2 separate regions of the Homo sapiens genome follow, and region 2 is linked to region 1. Evidence: fine-mapped QTL for protein levels in blood plasma. A gene starts in region 1. The other region holds a variant in brackets. All regions are shown on one strand. Distances are from middle to middle. Region 1 holds the start of PDGFRA (platelet derived growth factor receptor alpha). Region 2 overlaps PDGFRA (platelet derived growth factor receptor alpha).

The links. PIP is the posterior inclusion probability: the model's chance that the variant is causal. Protein levels are from antibody-based Olink assays in UK Biobank. Linkage for the fine-mapping came from a reference panel and not from the study's own genotypes, which makes the PIPs less certain.
Region 2: its variant is fine-mapped to the plasma level of the PDGFRA protein (UK Biobank, PIP above 0.99). The variant lies in the coding sequence of PDGFRA. If it changes the protein, the assay may bind it differently, which can mimic a change of level.

Annotation. Positions count from the first base shown.
Region 1 is chr4:54,226,652-54,232,165 of GRCh38, reverse strand. PDGFRA (platelet derived growth factor receptor alpha) reads right to left here and starts at 2,873. Exons shown (of 23, transcript NM_006206.6): 1 at 2,751-2,873. RefSeq lists enhancers at 3,575-4,400, 5,229-5,514.
Region 2 is chr4:54,270,502-54,273,511 of GRCh38, reverse strand. It overlaps PDGFRA (platelet derived growth factor receptor alpha), which reads right to left. Exons shown (of 23, transcript NM_006206.6): 8 at 2,764-2,879; 9 at 992-1,118. Among named protein-coding and RNA genes, the nearest start is that of PDGFRA, 43 kb to the right of the region's middle. The variant A/G (reference allele first, on the strand shown) is at 1,031.

The DNA.
Region 1 (5,514 bases):
GTCACCGATCCGGCTTTTAGCTCTTTTCCTAGAATTGTCACTTTTCCACCAGCAACGTATAACCTGGTCGCAGCTCCCCGGAGGTCAAAGGGAGTACTTCCCTGTGGGGTCTGCAGGAAGGCGCTGGCCACCACGTCCCCAAAACGCGTCCCGCCGCTGCGCGCCGCCCACGGTCCGTCCCCAGGAGGCACAAAATGGGCCCGCCTCGGCGCCAGACGTGTTTGCAGCTGGAAAGCCCGGCCCAATGCCCCTCCCCCTGCATCCCTCCTCAGTCCGCGTCCCGAGAGGAAACTGGCCCAGGGGCGCAGAGCTGGGAGCCTGGGATCTCCTTCAAGTCCTTCTCGATCTAAGGATTTAAACAAGAGCCAGGGCACCGGGGGCTAACGACGGGTTCATTCTTGGCTTCCCCTCACTCTTGTGAACGAGGTCCAGCTGCACTTGGGTCAACCCAAAACTGCAAGCTCCGAAGCAGGGCCTGACCAGGGCGTCAAAGCGAGCCTGGTCGGCCTTGCGCCTGTCGGGGAGTCGAGGCAGGGCCTCCTCATCTTGAGGGTTGTGGAAAGGAGGAGGCCGAGGAGAAAGGGAGAAGAGGGGATGCAATTCAGCAGTGCCGGGGTCCAGGTTGACCAGATTAGGGGTCGGGGATGGGACAGCGCGGCGGCTGGGGAGGTGCGCACGCCCGGAGAGCCCCTTCCTCCCCTCCTGTGGCTCCGGGGATGTTTGTCCGGTGAGATGCACTGCGGAGGACTGTCGTGCGTTTGCCCTGGATGCTCCCTGCTCCAAAAATCTGTCTAGTTCTTGTCAGGAGCGACCGCGGCGAGGCGAGTCGGTCCAAAACATTGAGCAATTTGGCCTCGGAGCCAAAAAGCCATTTCCCACACCGCCCAGCCCGCGGCTTTTCGGACGCGGGGCGGTAGGGACCTGATATGGGCCCCATCCATGCTTGCCTCCCACCCAGGAAGATGGAGTGAGTGGCAAGTTCTTCCAGGCACTCCTTGCGCACATCCTGAGGTCTTAGCACAATTCGGGGAGCGAAGTGCGGGACCGGCGCTCTGGCTGCGGGAGGGATGCACAACGCACAGCCTGCCAGGCCAGCAAGTCCTTCCCGACCAAGACGCGAGGCCAGGCCATCGGCAGCTCTCGCACACCTGGCCCGGCCCAGGCTCCTGGCTCCCTCTGGCAACGTACTCGGGTTGGGCCACACTCGTCGCTCCGACCTGGCCGACACCCTCCCGGAATAGAACAGCTGATCCCACATATTCAATGCCAAATGGACGCCGCCCGCTCCCTGGGCGCAGCCGGGCGGAGTTAATTTCGTGTGTAAATCTGGTTTCCATGGGGGTAGACAGCAGAGGAAGGAGAAGTACGCACAGACGGCTCTGAAGCCGGCAGGGAGAGGAATGGAAAAAAGGCCAACTAGAGAGGACCGAGCAGCGCTGGGCGAGCTCAGACGGCAAGTGCCACGCACCCCCGCGCGGAGAAGGGTGCCGGGTAGGGGGTGTCCAGGGCTCGGGTGCCCGGAGGGAGAATATGGTTTACCTCCCACCTTTCTGTCTTACCTGCAAACAAGTTTCCCCAGTTCCAAGTCGTCCCTAACTTCCTCACAAGAAGTTCGGCACCTTCCTGGAGACCTTTCCTCTCTTCCTGCCTGCGGCCAGAACTGAGCGAAAGCAGAGCCCCCGGGCAATGCAGAAATGATTCCACCGAGGAGGGGGCGCGGGAAGACAGGCGGGGGCGGGGGCCACGGAGCACAATGAGGGCCCCTTGGTGTGCGGTTCGAAATTCCTCAAATCCCAGTTGCTGGAATGCGAGGCGACGACGACTTCTTCACTCAGGGCCAAATGTGTTTGTCATTATTCCAGACCGCCCGCCCGCGCCGCCGCTGTCGCCCCCGCGCTAGGGCGTGCAACCCGAGCACACTGCCCGGCAGGCACCCGCTCTCCCTGGCACCTCACTGACCCAACAAACCGCTCCAGAGCGCCCCAAACCCTTGCCCACGCCCGCGCGCCTCTGCTTGTCCCGCAGCCGCCTCACCGCCGCGCCAAATCTGGCCCCGACTCTCTCCCAGAGCAGCGCCGTCCAGTAATCACGCGCATTCGGCCGGCTCCCTGTGCTGTAGGCCAACACCGAGGTCCGGTCTCCAGCCGAGCCCAGCCCGCCTCCTGCGCCCCGCAACCCCTTCGCGCGCCCCCCTCCACGCTCCCCTCCACGCTCCCCTCTCCCCACCTCCCCCTGGTCCCCCAGCCGCGCTCCACACCATGGGCTGCAGCGCTGTCCCGCCAAACCGCAGGCGAGGAATGAAAACACTCATTTAAAACCTGTCGCCTTCCAGGACCCACTGCCAAGAAGAGGGCAAACACCTCTGCCTCCACCCCCAGTTCCTTGGTGTTCGGCCCAGTATTCACGAACACCACCCCCACTCCCAAAAGAAACCTCAAAAATGTAAGCCTAAACAATTTCTTTGGGAGGCCATAGGGTTGTTAGAAAAACATTGTTTTTAAAAATAGGTCTGGAAAATGTGTGTTTAAAAAAAATACCTAGACTTTCTAACTCTATGGTTATCTCCCACCCGTCCCCAAGTGAAGTTTATTCCGAAAAAAAAAAATTACTCTCTGGACACACAACTGGAATCCAGCTCCTTTTTTTTTTTCTTGTCGCCCAAAGTTTGAAGTTACTTCGCTTTCTCCAGTCCCAGAGTCTGATCAGGGACTTCCCTTATAAACAAAAAATCATTTTTTCTTTTCCCTTACCTTCTCCTCCGATGTTATTCCGCAATGAATGTCCCACACATGGAGTAAAGAGCGTGCCCACGGCCTCCAATGATCTCTTGCAGTCTCCTCCTCTGTTTCTCTCCCTGTAGCTCCAACAGTAATGGGCTCAAAAACCGCGTTTTGTAATTGATTCAATGTTATAGTCCATCCTTCTAAAACTAATCATTTGCTCTAAGTAAATAGCTGTCAGGAAATAAGCCCCCCCTCAACCTTGGTCTCTTCAAAATAAAAGTTTCTCTCAAACTCCCTGCGCTCCGAATCTCCCAGTGTCCAGATTGCGCCTTCGCTTTTTGCTCTTACGCAATCAGGGGGTCCAGTCCCAACCCCCAGACTTCGACAACAACTGGGGGGCGGGGAGAAGCAGACCAGATGGGATGGGGGGTGGTGGAAGGGGGAGGTGTTGGTGCTCTGCCGGGAAAGAGGTTTTGTGAAACTACAAACAGCCCATCATTTCCAGAATGAGTTTGCCTCCCCATTTTGGGGTTATTTTCTTAGACTGCTATAGTTTTGTATTCTCTTTGAAAAGAAGAAAAGGAACATACAAAATTGCATTTAATACCCAGAGAGAATATAAATCTAGAATCAAGAAATGTCCCTTCTACAAACTCGGCCCAACGAGAAATAGGGCCCTCGGGAGAAATCTCCAAGCGGTTGCGCCGTTTTGAACTAGGGGTCTTTTAGGGGAAGGGCTATATAGTTGCTAGTTATTTAATAGGATTGGGCAAACTGTTGAGTCCAATATGACAATGATGGGTTTTTGTTTTGTGTGGTGTGTGTGTGTGTACAAGACTGGGTGGTCTGAAATACGGTACAAAGAAAAGAGGGTCTGTGTAGGTTTGGAACGTTCTCCGATAGAACGACCTTTACTCCCTTGAAGTCACTTATCTGGTCGTGCCTTTGTTTTCGGGGTTATCTGGGCGAGGTTGCCCTGGCTTCTATCTCGCATACAAAAAAAGCTCAAGCTTGGGCGTTTGAGGAATCGTACCACCGCCTCCGCGTCGTGGGGGAGGATGCCTTTTGATTCTCCCTCCGTTCCCTCCCGCCGCGTGGGTCGAACCCTACGAATTCCTTGGAATTGACAGCTGAGCCCCAAACCCTGCGCCCAAGGCGAGAGGCCAGTGTCGGGAGGAAACGATCCTGCCGGCGAGGGAAAGGGGGCGCTGATGCTCCAGGAACCAGACCTGGGCAGAGTGGGGCTTCCCAGCGACAGCGGGGGAGGGGAGCGCGTTCACCTTCATCGCTCTCTGATTTTTGAATTCTCCTGTTGGGGTTGGGGGTCATCCTTCATCCTTCTCCCTCAACCCCACCCCAACACACGCACTCTGAAAATGGCCAAAGTGGCCAGGTTGGGACTGGCATGTCCAACAGCCGTCTCCTCCTTCACCAGGAGGGTGGACACAGTGCAGTGGACAGGGGAGAGTCACAGAGAAGTACTCCAACGGGCGCGGTGCTGTGCCTAACCAGGACAGGATCTTGGGATGTCAGCCTCGAAAACAGGGCGCCTGGGGCTGCGCTGGGGGTCCCATTGCCGCAGTTCTTCTACGCGACCCGCTCTCGTGCATCTTCAGCTTGGGTGACTGCACCGCTCGCTATTACTTCCACATGTCCCTTCAGGAAATCATTGAAGGCAAATATATGAACAGCCCCTTGTTCGGAATGCTAACAGGATACCGTAATGTTTGTAGAAAATGAGCGGGAACAAACGATCCCCCCAAAAATCAGAGTGCGGAATAAAAGGCAAAAGCGGGTGCTGGGCCACATGCTGTTAAGTTGAGAACCGGGTTTTTAGGCTAGTTGCCCCAGAGGGTAGGAGGCGAGACAGACAGCCTACCCAGAGGGGCTGCTTTGCTTCGGCGACACTGTTAGTCCGGTCAAGCCAGGGTCTTCCGTCCGCAGGGCCCCAGCGCTCTCCGCCCACAAATGGTAACTTCACAGTTCATTTCAGAGCCGTTTAATGGGGCCCGAGAAGCAGTCCGGGCGGGAGTGTCTCCAGGCAGCGACTCCTCGGGAGTTTAAAGCAGAAAGCAATGGATGAGCAAGCGAGCACCCAGTTGTCCTTCTGGTAGTAATTACCTGCCTAATTTGAATGATGCCTTTGTTATGATCATTAACAAACATTTGCTAAAGGTTTCCATGTGTGACATTCTGGAAGGTTTAAAGGCCTGAGGAGCTGACTCCAGGGATAGTGCCCCGGTGGGGGGTGGCGCAAGAAAGCAAATGGTTGGGGGAAAATTTTGCGGAGAGACTGTGCAAAGAAGAGAGGTCAACATCTGCCTCCTCTGCAAAAGCAAAATAAACCCAGTGGTCAGGAGCAACCTCCGGACAGGAGGCCCTCGAACCGAGGCGGTTGGTTCCTTAAACCGAGTCCTGCCCCCACAGCCCCCGCCCCTACCACTGCTCATAGGCGGGTTTGAATCCTGTTTTCCGCCTTCTAAGGCTGGTCCGAGGCTGGTTCGGGAGAAGTCGGGTCTGCGCCCGGCAGTCAGTCCGGGGCGTCGGGGGAAGGTGGGGCTAGTTCTTGCCGCGCTCTCCCAGTGTCGTTCTAAGATCCTTCGAGATCGGTCCCACGACGCCCCGGGTCCTGGGTGGTCCCGGAGCCGCAGGGGGCTAGAAACCTTGCCCTCCTGAGGCGGGCTGCGGGTCTTTTCTCCCCTTCTTGTGCTTCTCACTGGGCACCGTGTGGGGGGTGGGGGGAGGGGACCAGGCCACCATATGTACCCGGAGGAGAGGAGCGACATGCACT
Region 2 (3,010 bases), 43 kb before region 1:
AGGGCCAATTCCTGAGAGTCATGGCAATGAGTGGAGCCACGGGAACACTCTAAGATGGCAAGGAGTTGGGACCTTGTCTGCATTTCGGGGCAATACACACTGATTTATTTTACATGCAGATGAACATTAAAACTTGTCTGCATGTGCTGAAGAGGGAATAACTCACACATGAACAACTGAAAGCTAAGTGTTTACATAGCAGGCAGAGATAATCAAGTTTAATAAAATATGACTACCATTCCCCAATCTTGAACCTATGAGCAAACTGAACAGTTCAACTTCAACCATATTTAATGATCTCAATCTCCCACCCCTTCAAAAAGGCCTGGAGCCCTCCCTTCTCAACACTCACACTGGGAAGAGCCCCTAGGGTGTCACTAGGGTTGCGATGATCCTCAGATTGAGTTATAAGACCTAGAATCCTGCTCCACACTGGAATCTACTAGAAACCCCAGTCAACATCCAAGTCTGTTCTTAGCCCTAGAAGTTAAGATGAGGAGTCTCTGTCTAGAGGAAGAAACAACTGAGGCTTCTGAACACAACCAGTTACCATGGATGAAGTGTAAACACATTGCTCATGTGCCCATTTAAGAAGGCTGAGGACTCGGGGGAGGGAGGAGGGAATGGCGAATTAACCCACCAAACAGCAGGTGGGCAGATAAGGGACTAAGCAGTCACATTTATGTTTACATGCAGTCCGACTACCAAACAAAGTTCACCAAATAAGATATGTGAGCCAGGGTAGTAAAAATCTTCTTAGAACAGTGGTTCTTAAAATTCACTCTTGTTTTTAGATTGGAGACATTTTGAAGGTCTAATGAGAGCCCTGGACCTTCTTCTCACAGCTATTCATGACAAAAGATACACACCCTGAAGCTATCACACCCAAAACCCTATCTTATAGTCAATAAGTAAAATGTATTTGACATCATTTGTGTCAAGGGAGAAATATTCTGACCACGAAAGAAGAAGACACATCTGTTTTCCATACTTCTTAATATCTTTGCATATCATCCACTCAATATCAGGA[A/G]GCGGCGTGCCTTCAGCTGTGCACCTCACCGTCTGTCCCCCAGTTGAGCCATGGTGATCATCGACCAAGTCCAGAATGGATGAAGGAACTGCAAGAGGCAGAAAGAAGTCAGAATGGAATAGCTCGTGTCCCAGAACATATGAGACTACAAAGTGGAATATGAGTTCACAACTCATCTACATGGCATTCAAAACACTCCGGAGGGGCTGAAACCAGTTGTACAAGTAACACTCCAGTTTAGACAGACCCACATGGTTAGCAGCATTTTCACAGTTTTGGTGTTTTGAGATTTATCCCTGTGATGTTTTTAACCTGGAGTGAAGAAAGTGAAAAGTCCATGGTTGTGATGCCTCACACATGTAGCCCCAGCTACTTGGGAGGCTGAGGTGGAAGAGAAACACTTGAGCCCAGGAGTTTGAGGCAAGCCTGGGCAACATGGTGAGAAGAAAAATGGGAAGGGAAGGGAAGGGGAGGGGAGGGGGGGAGGGGGGAGGGGAGGGGGAGGGGAGGGGGGAGGGGAGGGGAGAATGAAGGAAGGAAGGAAGGAGAGAAAGGAAAAGAGAGAGTGAGGGAAGAGGGAAGGAAGGAAGAAAGGAAAGAAGGAAGGAAGGAAAAGGGAGAACAAGGGAGGGAGGGAGGGAGGAAAAGGAAGGAAGGAAGGAGAGAAAGGCAAAGAAAAGAGAGAGTGAGGGAGGGAGGAAGGAAGGAAGGAAGGAGAGAAAGGAAAAGAAAAGAGTGAGTGAGGAAGGAAGGAAGGAAAGAAAAAGAGAAAGGAAAGGAAAAGAGAGAACAAAGGAGGGAGGGAAGAAGGAAGCAAGGAAGGAAGGAAGGAGAGAAAGGAAAAAGGGAAGAGGGAAGGAAGGAGAGAAAGGAAAGGAAAAGAGATAACAAGGGAGGGAGAGAAGAAGGAAGGAAGGAAGGAAGGGAGGGAGGGAAAGAGAGAGAGAAAGTCCCTTGGTTATTTGGCTTGAAAGGCAAGGAGGTTCTTAAAATTATATTATAGCTTAGGATTCAACTAATGGATTCAGCTAAAGTATAATCTAAAGCAGCATTTACCAAAATGCATCTGTGGTATGTTATTAGGTTTTAAAGATTCTTTTCTAAATCTGTGGTCAAATAAATTAGATATACGGTGTTGCTTGTATCACAGGTTTTACTGTGAGGATCACATGAGCGCACCTCAGACAGCACCTGGCTCATGGCTGGGACTCTGGATAGGTGCTGAGCCTGAATGTAAACAGACTTGGGCACTCCCTTCTGGTAAGGACCACTGTACAATGTCTATAAGGAAAACTTGTAGCAAAACTCTCCAGAACAATCTAAGGTCATCTGCTTCTCTCTTCTCAGATTGAGAAGCAGGTGCTAAGTAAGCTGGTGGAGGCCAGGTGCAGTGGCTCACACCTGTAATCCCAGTACTTTGAGAGGCCAAGGTGGGAAGATAGCTTGAACCCAGGAGACCAGCCTGAGCAACATGGCAAGACTCCATCTCTACAAAAATAAAGCTAGCTGGTGGAGCCTAGGGATTCCTCGCCTACTCTAGAGTAACCCAGAACCTCCCAGAAATACCTGAATTCATGAGTCCAGCAGAGGTATTCCCGATATGTGACATATGCAGACACTGCTTCTCCCCTAAGTGCTGCTTTTCTTCCATGACCGGGGAGAAAAGTGCCAGGCTTTCCTTGGAAGACACTCATCTACAGAGCTAGCATTATCTTTATACTCCCTTTACATACCTTGAGTTAACAGTTCAAAAGTATAGCTCTTCACAGCATCTTCATTTTGAGCTACAATAGTATAATGGCCACTGTCTTCTTCCTTAGCACGGATCAGCTTTAATTTGCTTCGATACCTTTTAAAAAAAGGATTTTGTTTCAACAAGCAGTAGCTAAGTAAGTTCCAATTGTTTAAACAATTGTACTCTTCAATTTAAGTTTTATTTTTACTGTAAAAAGTAAAGTCATCTTTTTTTCTTGTCCATAT